Regions from separate parts of the Homo sapiens genome. Here all the other regions are linked to region 3. The links come from fine-mapping of genetic effects on gene expression. A gene starts in region 3. Each other region holds a variant in brackets. All regions are shown on one strand. Distances are from middle to middle. Region 1 overlaps EFCAB13 (EF-hand calcium binding domain 13). Region 2 has its middle 13 kb from the start of ITGB3. Region 3 holds the start of EFCAB13 (EF-hand calcium binding domain 13).

What was found. PIP is the estimated chance that this variant, and not a neighbour inherited with it, causes the effect. A credible set is the group of variants that fine-mapping cannot tell apart.
Region 1: its variant is the best candidate, but not a certain one, in a credible set for the expression of EFCAB13 in whole blood (TOPMed, PIP 0.54).
Region 2: its variant is the best candidate, but not a certain one, in a credible set for the expression of EFCAB13 in subcutaneous fat (GTEx, PIP 0.72).

What each region holds. Positions count from the first base shown.
Region 1 is chr17:47,433,519-47,437,761 of GRCh38, forward strand. The region is part of intron 24 of EFCAB13 (EF-hand calcium binding domain 13); the gene reads left to right. Among named protein-coding and RNA genes, the nearest start is that of NPEPPS, 95 kb to the right of the region's middle. The variant C/T (reference allele first, on the strand shown) is at 1,858.
Region 2 is chr17:47,238,882-47,243,124 of GRCh38, forward strand. No RefSeq gene overlaps it. Among named protein-coding and RNA genes, the nearest start is that of ITGB3, 13 kb to the right of the region's middle. RefSeq lists an enhancer at 1-292. The variant C/T (reference allele first, on the strand shown) is at 2,383.
Region 3 is chr17:47,321,795-47,326,037 of GRCh38, forward strand. It overlaps EFCAB13 (EF-hand calcium binding domain 13), which reads left to right and starts at 2,161. Exons shown (of 25, transcript NM_152347.5): 1 at 2,161-2,280; 2 at 2,660-2,729. It overlaps EFCAB13-DT (EFCAB13 divergent transcript), which reads right to left and starts at 2,107. Exons shown (of 3, transcript NR_110880.1): 1 at 1,895-2,107. RefSeq lists a silencer at 1,890-2,299 and enhancers at 2,640-2,729, 2,770-2,949.

The sequences.
Region 1 (4,243 bases), 110 kb after region 3:
GGAGGAGATACTTTGAGACTGTGCAAGTATTCTGTTTCTCCTCTAAGTTTCTCCCACTAATTTTAGCATTCATTGGCAGATGAATTGCTAGCCTGTAGCAATTATTACTGTGTTGTTCTAATGTTGATTTTCTACTTCCCTCATTCCTTCTACATTTTAAAATTATTTGAAATTCTTCGGCAGGGACGATTTATTCCTTCACTCCCATTAATTAATTAGTAATATGTCTTTTAATTAAACCATGTGGTTAACTTACACTTATGAGATTACTAAAGTATTTGGCTTTAAATCTACCATTTTACTAGTACTTTCTATTTCAGCCACCTGTTCCATATTTCCTTTTCTCTTGGATTTTTTACTTTAAAAATTACTCAATTTCTTAGACAATAGCAAAACAAATATGACAAAATGATATAAAATCCTTTTGGTGTGATAAGTATGTTCATTATTTTATTGTGATTATTGTTTATTTGTGTTTACAAATGTCAAAACTTTGTCAAATACCACAGTTTAAAAGTTGCTGTCTGTTGTGATCCAGAGCAATCAGACAAGAGAAAAAAATAAAGGGTATCCAAATCAGTAAAGAGAAAGGCAAACTGTCACTTTTCATCGATGATATGATCATATACCCAGAAAACCCTCAAGATTCATCCAAAAAGATCCTAGATCTGATAAATGAATTCAGTAGAGTTTCAGGATACAAAATCAGTGTACACAAATTAGTAGCACTGCTATACACCAACAATGACCAAGCTGAGAATCGAATCAAGAACTCAATCCCCTTCACAACAGCTACAAAAAAAAAATAAATAAATACTTAGGAATATACTGAACCAAGGAGGTGAAAGATCTCCACAAGGAAAACTACAAAACACTGCTGAAAGAGAGTATCAGTGACACAAACAAATGGTCATGGATGTGTGGAATCAATGCTGTGAAAATTACCGTACTGCCAAAAGCAATCTACAGATTCACTGCAATTCCCATCAAAGTACCATGATCATTCTTCACAGAACTAAAAAAAGTCCTAAAATTCATATGGAACTAAAAAAGAGCCTGCATAGCCAAAGCAAGACTAAGCAAAAAGAACAAATCTGGAGCATCACATTACCTGTCTTCAAACTATACTGCAAGGCAGTAGTTATCAAAACAGCATGGTACTGTTATAAAAATAGGCATGTAGACCAATGGGACAGAATAGAGAACCCAGAATTAAAGCCAAATACAGCCAACTGATCTTCGACAAAACAAACAAAAGCATGAAGTAGAGAAAGGACATCCTATTCAACAAATGGTGTGGGGATAATTGGCAAATCACATGTAGAAACACGAAACTGTATCCTCATCACTCACCTTATACAAAATCAACTCAAGATGGATCAAAGACTTAAATCAAAGATTTGAAACCATAAAAATTATAGAATATAACATTAGAAAAACTCTTCTAGACATTGGCTTAGGCAAAGAGTTCATGACCAAGAACCCAAAAGCAAATGCAACCAAAACAAAAATAAATAGATGGGACTTAATTAAACTAAAAAGTTTCTGCAAAGCAAAAGAAATAATCAGCAAACAGACAACCCACAGAATGAGAGAAAATATTCACAAACTCTACATCTGACAAAGGGCTAATATCAAGAATCTACAAAGAACTCAAACAAGTCAGCAAGAAAAAAACAAAACCATCAAAAAGTGGGCAAAGGATATGAATAGACAGTTCTCAAAAGAAGATATACAAATGGCCAACAAACATATGAAAAAAATGCACAACATCACTATTTGTCAGGGAAATGCAAATTAAAACCACAGTGAGATACCACCTTACTCCTACAAGAATGGCCATAATTAAATTGATGT[C/T]GGCATGGATGTGGTGAAAAGGGAACACTTTTACGCTACTGGTGGGAGTGTAAACTAATAAAACCACTATGGAAAACAACATGGAGATTCCTTAAAAAACTACAAGTAGGTCTTTTGACTCCTTGGTTCAGTATATTCCTAAGATTTTTTTGTTTTTGTTTTTGTTTTTTTTGCAGCTATTGTAAAAGGGGTTGAGTTCTTGATTTGGTTCTCCACTTGGTCACTGTTGGTGTATAGAAGAACTACTGATTTGTGTACAGTAATCTTGTATCTGGAAGCTTTGCTGATTCTTTTATCAGTTCTAGGAACCTTCAGGAGGAGTCCTTAGGGTTTTTGAGGTAAACAATCATCATCTGCAAATAGTGACCGTTTGACTTCCTCTTTACCAGTTTCGATGCCTTTCTTTCTCTTGCCATATTACTCTGGCTAGGACTTCCAGTACTATGTTGAAGAGGAGTGGTGAGAGTGGGCATCCTTGTCTTGTTCCAGTTCTCAGAGGGAATGCTTTCAGCTTTTTGCCATTCAGTATTATGTCGGCTGTGGGTTTGTCATAGATGGCTTTTATTACATTAAGGTATGTCCCTTGTATGCCTATTTTGCTGAGGGTTTTAATCATAAAGAGATGCTGGATTTGTCAAATGCTTTTTCTGCATGGTCATGTTATTTTTGCTTTTAATCTGTTTATGTGGTGTATCACATTTATTGACTTGCATATGTTAAACTATCCCTGCATCCCTGGTACGAAACCCACTTGATCATGGTGGATTATCTTTTTGATATGTCGTTGGATTCGGTTAGCTAGTATTTTGTTAGGGATTTTAGCATCTACATTGATCAAGGATATCAGTCCGTAGTTTTCTTTTTTGGTTATGTCCTTTCTTGGTTTTGGTATTAGAGTGATGCTGGCTTCATAGAATGAATTAGGGAGGGTTCCTTCTTTCTCTGTCTTGTGGAATAGCGTCAAAAGGGTTGGTACCAATTCTTCTTTGAATGTCTAGTAGAATTCTGCTGTGAATCATCTGGTCCTGGACTTTTTTTGTTGGTAATTTTTAATTACCATTTCAATCTTGCTGCTTGTTATTGGTCTGTTCAGGATACCTAATTCCTCCTGATTTAAGCTAGGAGAGTTGTATTTTTCCAGGAATGTATCCATGTCTTCTAGGTTTTCTGATTTATGTGCGCAAGGGTGTTCATAGTAGCCCTGAATGATCTTTTGTATTTCAGTGATGTCAGTTGTAATATCTCCTGTTTTGTTTCTTAGTGGGGTTATTTGGATTTTCTCTCTTCTTTTCTTGGTTAATCTCACCAGTGGTCTATCAATTTTATTTATCTTTTTAAAGAACCAGCTTTTTGTTTCATTTATCTTTTGTATTTTTTTTTTTCAATTTCATTTAGTTCTGGTCTGATCTTTGTTATTTCCTTTCTTCTGCTGGGTTTGGGTTTGGTTTGTTCTTGCTTCTCTAGTTCCTTGAGGTGTGACCTTAGAGTGTCAGTTTGTGCTCTTTCAGTCTTTTTGATGTAGGCTATGAACTTTCCTCTTAGCACTGCCTTTGCTGTATCCCAGAGGTTTTGATAGGTTGTGTCATTATGGTCATTCAGTTCAAAGAATTTTAAAATTTCCATCTTGATTTCATTTTTGACCCAATGCTCATTCAGGAGCAGGTTATTCAAATTTTCTTGTATTTGCATGGTTTTGAAGGTCCCTTTTGGAGTTGATTTCCAGTTTTATTCCATTGTGGCCAGAGAGAGTGCTTGATATAATTTCAATTTTCTTAAATTTATTGAGGCTCGCTTTATGGCCTATCATATGGTCTATCTTGGAGAAAATTCCATGAGCTGTGAATAGAATGTGTCTTCTGCAGTTATTGGATGAAATGTTCTGCATACATCTGTTAAGTCCATTTGTTCCAAGGTATAGTTTAAGTCCATTGTTTCTTTGTTGACTTTCTATCTTGATGAACTGTCTAGTGCTGTCAGTGGAGTATTGAAGTCCCCCACTATTATTGTGTTGCTCTCCACCTCATTTCTTAGGTCTATTAGTAATTGTTTTGTAAATTTGGGAGCTCCAGTGTTAGGCACATATATGTTTAGAATTGTGATATTTTCCTGTTGGATAAGGCCTTTAGCATTGTATAATGTCCTTCTTTGTCTCTTTTAACTGCTGTTGCTTTAAAGTTTGCTTGTCTGATGTAAGGATAGCTACCCCTGCTCACTTTTGGTGTCCATTTGCATGAAATGCCTTTTTCCACCCCTTTACTTTAAGTTTATTTGAGTCCTTATGTGCTAGGTGAGTCTTCTGAAGGCAGCAGATGATTGGTTGGTGAGTTCTTACCCATTCTGCAGTTCTGTATCTTTTAAGTGGAGCATTTAGGCCTTTGACATTCAG
Region 2 (4,243 bases), 83 kb before region 3:
TGGCCCGCTGCTGCCATCAGTAAGGATAGTCTTGCTACAAAATCACTCATATTTTTATGGTTTTTTTTTTAATTTTTAATTTTAGAGGCGAGGATTCGAACCTCTGAGTTCATGCCATCCTCCCATCTTAGCCTCCTGAGTAGCACATGCCACTGTGCCTGGCTAGCTCATATTTTTAAGGTACTTTTTTCCCCGTCTGTCTTGATGAAAAAATACAACTTAAAAAGTTGGCACAGATAAACAGAGCTGGGGCTTATATCTTATAACCTATGTAATTAATATCATAGCCAAACCTTCACATGCTTCCTTCCCATCCTCTGCCATATTACAATTAGATTTTGAGGGACTTTGGGAGTTCTATCCCCCTACCTTGAAGGGTATCCATGGTCACCTGCCACAGTGCCCCAAATATCCATTATTAATTACTTTTTGGGGGTGTAGGCATTGAAGGCTTCTGGGTATGGCTTGACTATTGAGTGTTTGGCCTCTGAAGCCAGAATGCCAGAGTTTAGAACTGGAGACTCCTCTTCCTTTCTGCACCTTGGCATCCTTCTCTCTAAAATGGGGATGAAAACAACACCCACCTCATTAAGGGATGTTGTGAGGATGTTACAAGGTAATATGTATGAGGCATTTATTAGAATAACACCTGGCCCAAAATGAGCCCTCAATAAATGTCAGATGTAAAGTTATCAACATTCTTGTCCTCTTAGCTTAAATCTTATTCAGTGCATTGCCTAGTAGAATTCTGAGGCACAACGAGTCCATTTTATGACCTGAGCAAAGGAAAGCGTTAGGAAACAGGGCATTCATTAACTAGAATGGTCTTAGGCTGAAAGTTTTACCATGTACAGAATCCTCTGAGCATTTAAGGGATCGGTGTGCAGGCAAAGAGTTCCTAGGGAAGGACCAAAGAATCAGGGTGAGGCAGACAGAGGATGGCGGTTGAGAGTAACTGCCCAGGGACGGGGAACACAGCCCTTGGGGTAGGCACAGGTATCTGAGTCCCTGAAGCGAGGAGAATGGAGCCAGAGGGGTGGAGAGGAGAGGGAGGAGGCAGGACCAGAGAGGCAGAGGAGCGCTCCTGCCAGGGGTCCTGTGCAGTGAAGGAGGTGAGGCCTCACGGCTGCTTCCTCAGGCCTCATGGCTTCCAGGCAGGTCTTACTGGGTTGGAAACACATAGGGCCATGGGGGAAGTGAGACATGCTTGCTAATCATACTTCCAGCTCACAGTCATCTCTCTGTTTGTCATCCTTTCAAGGAAAAGCTGTATCCCAAGGGCCCTCTGTTTAGCTCAGACCTTGGCCCAATGCCCAGGTTTTTCTGGTGCCACTATCATATCTCAGGATTCAGCCAGACATGGTTGGTAACTTCTTGTAATAGTCAAGACAGGAAGTGGTCAGGACCTGGAAATAGAGCAGCCCTTGGGGGTGGGTAGGACTGACCCAGCTCTGGGTGCCTCCTCAGGCTAGTGGCACAGAATTCCTGGACTTGGCCTGGGCTGCAGCGACGCTAGAGATAATGTCTTTATGGATTTCCCAATTTTATCTCAGACAATGGGAAATCTAGTAGTGTTTTATGACAAACAGGAATTTCTCCCATTATCATAGCAATGCTGACTTGAAACATTTGGGAGTGCCTGACATTCTATACCCACACTTACAGTAAGGGAGACAGTAGGTTGTAGGGTAAGCACTGAAGTCAGGCTGAACTTTTCTGAACCCCATCTTTGCCACTAACTCCCTGGTGCTCTTGAGCTAATTACCTCATCTCTCTGTGCCTCCATTTTTTCACTTGTAAAATCAGGATTTCCCCACGTATCTTACCGCAGACTAAAAAAAAGAAAAGTATGAAAGAATGCTTAGCATAGTATCTTGAACACACTAACCTCAAAATAAATGGCATCTAGTAAAATCATCATCATCATCATCATCACTGTCTCTTCGCCCACCAAGCTTCAGTTTGCACCTCTATAAAATGAGGATTGAGGGAAATAATCAATATTTGCAATATTTGTATAGAAGGTGGTATATGGTAGGTGTTCTCAAATTCTAGTTCCTTCCCATGGAGGAAAGCCAGACGCTGGGGAAGAGGACCTGGGTCAGCAGCTCATGTGCTGAGGGGAAGTGGGGTTGGGGGAAGGGAGGTCAGTCCCTGGCTGGAGTAGACCTGTGGAGTTAACCCCCTCTGCTGAGTAGAAATGTCGGGGACTGGACAATGGACTGGCACTGAATTCAGGCAGATTTGGGAGAACTGACTAGGTCCTGCTACTCCAGAGAAGCTGGTGAGTGGCAGGCTGGAGTAGTGAAAGCAGATAGCTGACAGTGTGGGTATTGGCTATAGCAAGGGCCTTCCTGAGTCCTCAGTGGCCCAAACTAGCCT[C/T]ATGGTGTTCTAGATCCTAGGATTCCTCTGGAGCAATTGTTCTTTTTTTTTCTTATTATAGATATGTTTTTAAAAATTTCAATAGCTTTTGGAGTACAAGTGGTTTTTGATTATATGGATGAATTGTATAATGGTGAAGTCTGATATTTTACTGCACCCATCACCTGGGTAGTATATATTGTACCCAATATGTGTTTTTTTTATCCCTCAACCCCCTCAACCTTCCCCCTTCTGAGTCTCCAAAGTCCATTATACCACTCTGTTTGCCTTTGCATACCCATAGCTTAGCTCCCACTTATAAGTGAGAACATACAGTATTTGGTTTTCCACTCCTGAATTACTTCACTTAGAATGATGGCCTCCAGCTCCATCCAAGTTACTGCAAAATACATTATGTCCTTCCTTTTTATGGCTGAGTAGTATTCCATGATGTCTATATACCACATTTTCTTTTTTATTTTTGAGACCGACACTCGCTCTGTCGTCCAGGCTGGAGTGCAATGGTGCAATCTTGGCTCACTGCAACCTCTGCCTCCCAGGTTCAAGTGGTTCTCCTCCCTCAGCCTCCCGAGTAGTTGTGGTTACAGGTGTGCACCTCCATCCCCAGCTAACTTTTGTATTTTTAGTAGACACGGGGTTTCACCATGTTGGCCGGGCTGGTCTCGAACCCCTGATCTCAGGTGATCCACCCGCCTCGGCCTCCCAAAGTGCTGGGATTACAGGCATGAGCCACCATGCCCAACTACTACATTTTCTTTATCCACTCATCAGTTGATAGGTACTTAGGTTGATTCCGTATCTTTGCAGTTGTGAATTGTGCTGTGATAAACCTACGCATGCAGGTGTCTTTTTGATGCAATGACTTCTTTTCCTTTGGGTAGATACCCAGTAGTGAGATTGCTGGATGGAGTGGTAGATCTACTTTTAGTTCTTTAAGAAGGTGGAACAATTGTTGTTAACCCTAGAGGTCACAGACCCGTTTGAGAAGCTAGTGAAAACTAAGGAGCATTTCTATAGAAAAATGCATATCACACAAATGTTTGCATATTAGAGGGGCCTCACAGATCCCCAGGAACTCATCAAGGGACTTCAGGTGAAGAAACCTGGTGGACTTGTCCCAGCAGCACTAATTAAGCCCAAGGACTAGACACTAGATCCACCCGTGGGTTGGCACAGGGCACAGGACCTGATCCAGGAGCTGTCAGAGGATGCTCAGTTTGACTGGTAAAGACAGTACCCAGACAGTATGCAACCTCCTCCTGCCTCCATTCAGCCAACATTGTCCAGGGAGCTAGAGATGGGCAGCAACAATGAAAATCAGTAGGTATCCTGACTCGTAGGCAGAATGTGGGGGTAGATTAAACCAGCATAGATGAGTTGATCCTAAGAGGAAAAAATAGCTCTTATTTATTTGTTTATTTATTTACTTACTTACTTACTTTTAGAGATGGGGTTTCACCATGTTGTCCAGGCTGGTTTTAAACTCTTGGGCTCAAGGGATCCTCTCCTTGGCCTCCCACAATGCTCACACCTAAAATCTCCCACACAGGGATTATAGGTGTGAGTCACCATGCCCACCATTTATTGAATACTTATTACATGCTAATTACTGTGCTAAGTGGCTGAAGCAGTCCTCCCACCTCAGCCTCCCAAGTAGCTAGGACTACAGGTGTGTGCCAGTGCACCCAGCTAATTTTTAAACATTTCCGTAGAGATGAAGTCTTGCTTCGATTCTCAGGCTGGTCTTGAACTCCTGGGCTCAAGTGATCCTCCTGCCTCAGCCTCCCCAAGCACTGGGATTACAGGTATGAGCCATCATGTCCCTTCTAACTCTATTTCATAGATGAGGAAATGGAGGCTT
Region 3 (4,243 bases):
CCACCATGCCCAGCCTGACACAGCCATTCTTAAAAGAAGACATACAAATGGCCAACAGGTTTGCGAAAAAAAAAATCACTATTATTAGGGAAATGCAAAATAAGATTACAATATCACCTCACACCTGTTAGCATGGCTATTAAGCTGGGTGTGGTGGCTCACACCTGTAATCTCAGTACTTTGGGAGGCTGAGGTGGGCAGATTACTTGAGGGTCAGGCGTTTGAGACCACCCTGGCCAACATGGTGAAACGCCATCTCTACTAAAAATACAGAAATTAGCCAAGTGTGGTGGCACATGCTTGTAATCCCAGCTACTTGGGAGGCTGAGGCAGGAAGATTGCTTGAACCCAGGAATGGAGGTTGCAGTGATTTGAGATTGTGCCACTGCACTCCAGCCTGGGCAACAGAGTGACTCAATCTCAAAAAAAAAAAAAAAAAAAAAAAAAAAGAATTGCTATTATCAAAATGATGAAAAAAATGTGTTGCTGAGGATGTGGAGAAACCTTTTACACTGTTAGTGTTATTACAGCCATTATGGAAAACTATATGGAGGTTTCCCAAAAAATTAAAAATAGAACTACCATATGATCCAGCGATGCTATTTCTGGGCATATATTGAGTAACTGAAATCAGTATATCAAAGACTTATTTGCACTTCCATGTTCATTTCAGCATTATGCACAATCGCTGAGATAATGGAATCAACCTGTGTCCATCGATGGATGAATGGATAAAGAAAATGTAGTAAACATATGCAATGGATACTATTCAGCCTTAAAAAAGAATTTCTGTCATTTGTGACAACATGAATCAACATATGCAATGGATACTATTCAGCCTTAAAAAAGAATTTCTGTCATTTGTGACAACATGAATCAACTTGGAGGACATACTAAGTGAAAAAAGCCAGGCACAGAAAGACACATACCACATGATCTCACTTATATGTGGAATCTTAAAAAGTCAAACTCATAGAAGTAGACAGTAGAATAGTTGTTAGAGGCTGGAAAGGGACGGGGCGGGTAGGAGATGCAGGATGGGGAGATGCTGTTCAAAGGGTACAAGGTTCAGTCAGACAAAAGCAGCAAGTTTCTGAGATCTATTGCATAGTGTGGTGACTATAGCTAATAATAATATATCGTATATCTCAAAACTGCTAAGAGTAAATTTCAAATGTCTCACCATAAAAAACGTTAAACAAGGTGATGGATATGTTAAGCTTGACTTAGTCGTTCCATATTGTATACATATATTAAAATATAACATTGTACCCCATTAAATATTTACAATTATGATTTGTACATATATTTAATAATAATAAAAATCTAAATAAAATATTAAAGAATGCCTACAAAGCAAGGTTTAAGATGTAAATGAACACAGTAGTATCACGGAAGGGATTAAATATTGTAACATTTATTGAGCACTACGTATATATTTTTGAATTCCCACAACCCTGGAAGAATGAGAAAATCGAGACTCAGGGAGCGTTAAGTATTTTGCCCAACTGCATACGATAAATACATAGGAAAAACAAACACACAGAAGAAAACCAAACCAACCAAAGTATCTCTTTCAAAAGGAAACGACAGTCTCCTTAAAGGCAACCCGAGACAAATTTCAGCAAAGCCGTGGGACACATGGCCTTCGAGCTGCTGTCCATTATTGAGTAGCAGAAGCCAAGAAGGATGGAATGTTTTGGAAGAAAGGGGTCGGGGGTCGGGGTGTTCAAAGGACGGACCGAAGGTAAGATTGAAGTGGGGTCAGACCATGGCGGGACAGCGCACCGGAGAATGAACAGCGATTAGGGAAGAGTGGCGAGCGGGTGGCAAGGACGGAGGGCGGAATCCCGGCCGGGGCTGCGGGAGGAAAGCGCACGGACAGGAGCCCCACCGCTCGAATGCAGCGCCCGGCGGCTGGCCTCGTGAGGTCACAGGCCCTTACGAGGTGGGGCAGGCAGGCGCGGCCGCAGTGCCTTCCAGTCAGCGCGGAGGCGGTATTGAGTTCAGCCGCTCCCCACAGCCCCGGAGCCCCTGGGCGGTGGCGGTGGCCGCGGCAGCACCGGCTCGACAGCCGATAGGGTCCTGGGCCCGCTCCGCTCGGGGTGGTCGGTGGGCGGAGCGTCGGGCTCGGTCAGGTGACCGCGGGGGCGGGGCCGCGCGGCGCGGGATCCTGGGAAGGCTGCAGAGCTAGAGCAGCGCCGCCCGAGGGGCGGCAGGGGCTGACCACAGAGAGCGCGGGGGCCTCCAGCCGAGAGGAAGGGAGGGCAGCTCGGGCCGGTAGTGGGACCCTTGGGGGACAGAGGTGGGGAGGGGAGGCGAGACCCGCTGAGGAGTTGGGAGGGGAGCCTTCGAGGTGGAGGGTGGAGAATGCAGTAGGGTGCGAGGGAGGAAGGAGAACAGTGGTGGGGCTGGGTGAAGGAAGGTTCCAGAAAGGAACAGTGAGGGGACTGAGTGGGACAAAGGGGCAGATTGAAGGGTGACTGAGACTGATCAGGTGGTTCCTCAGAAATGGTGGTTGTTGTAGAAGGCTGGCGGTCCCGGGGGTGGTGTCACTTCCCTGCTCCTTCAGCGGGAGGCGGAGACCTCTATTAGCACACTCATTTCCATCTTGCGGGTCGTTCACTCGCTAGCTTACAGGTCCTCTTTCTTCCTGTAGAAGTCGTTGGCTTCGTAAGAGCAGGGTCTATGGGAAGCCTCCTCAGCGTGGGTTCTTGGAAGAGGTGGAGGTTCGTTCACTCGACGTTTGTTACACAAATATGAAAACAGGGTGACGAAAGTTTGAACGTTCATGAATGGCAGTAGCTGCAATGGAGTTGTGTATGCAGTTGGTATTAATGACGTTTTCAGTCCCTCTGGCGAGAGAAAAGCGAGCGAGTCGGGCGGCTTGTGAGGGAAATGTGGCATGAGAGGAAAGAGGAAGGTATTTTGTGAAAGGATGTCATACAGAGTCATGCTTCAGTGAAGACGCCTTTGTTTTTCTCATCTTAAAGCCTCACAGCCCCATTTTCCTCTCAGCTACTGCCTTATTTCTCTTAACAACGTAACTCCTTGAAAGAGCCTACCCTACTGGCTGGGTTCAATTTCTTTACCCCGTTCTCTCTTGTACTCACTCTGACGACATTGTCTCCTTACCACCCCACCCAGATGGCTCCTTTCAAGTTTGTCAGTGTCCTCCGTGTTGTGAAACCTAGCGAACCATTCAGTACTGATCTTAACCGCCCACCCCACCCCCCTTTTTTTTTTTTGAGACAAGGTCTCTGTCGTCCAGGCTGGAGTGCAGTGGTGCAATCATAGCCCACTGCAGCTTCAAACTCCTGGGCTCAAAAGATCCTCCTGGCTCAGTCTTTGGAGTAGCTGGGACTAAGGTCGCCATGTCCAGCTGATTAAAAAAAAAATTCTGTAGAGGTGGGAGTTTCACTGTTGCCCAGGCTGGTCTTGAACTCCTGGCCTTAAGCAGCCCTCCTGCTTAGACCCCCACCCCCGCATCAAAGTGTTGGGATTACCTGCATAAGCCACCATGCACAGCCTGATTGCTCACTCTTGAAGTACTTTCTTCACTTGGCATTCAGGAACCCAGACCTACCTGATTTCCCTCCTCACAGTAACCAGAGTGATCCTTTCAGAAAGAACTTCAGATTATGTAATCCTTCTCCTCAGAACTCTTTCAATGCTTGTCACTCCTTCAGAGTACAAGCCACAGTTCTTACTGTCATCTAGGGGTCCTCCATGATATGCCACTTTCACTTAGCCTCTCTGATCTCTCCTGCTTCAGCCTCCTGGGGCCTTCCCACTATTCCTTGAACATTCTTCTTGCCTCGGGGCTTTTGTACTTACTTTTCTTTCTGGCTGAAATGCTCTTCCCTAAGATATTAATCAGCTCCCTACTTCAGTTCTTGCAGGTCTGTACTCAAAAGTCTCCCTCTCAGTAAGGTCTTCCTTGGCCACCCATTCTGTTCCCTGCATCTCTTCCCCTATACTACATTTCATATTCCCCTCCCTGCTTTACTTTTTTTTTTGTACTTATTGCAGATAACATACAATATGTTTTATTTTTCTATTTTATTATTTCACTCCCTGACTAGAACATAAGCTTCATGAGGGCAGATTTTATATATATATAAACAAAATATATATATATATATATATATATATATATATATATATAGCATATATATATTTTGTTCATTGGTATATCCCTAGAGCCTAGGAGAGAACCTAGTGCACACTAAGCATGCAGACA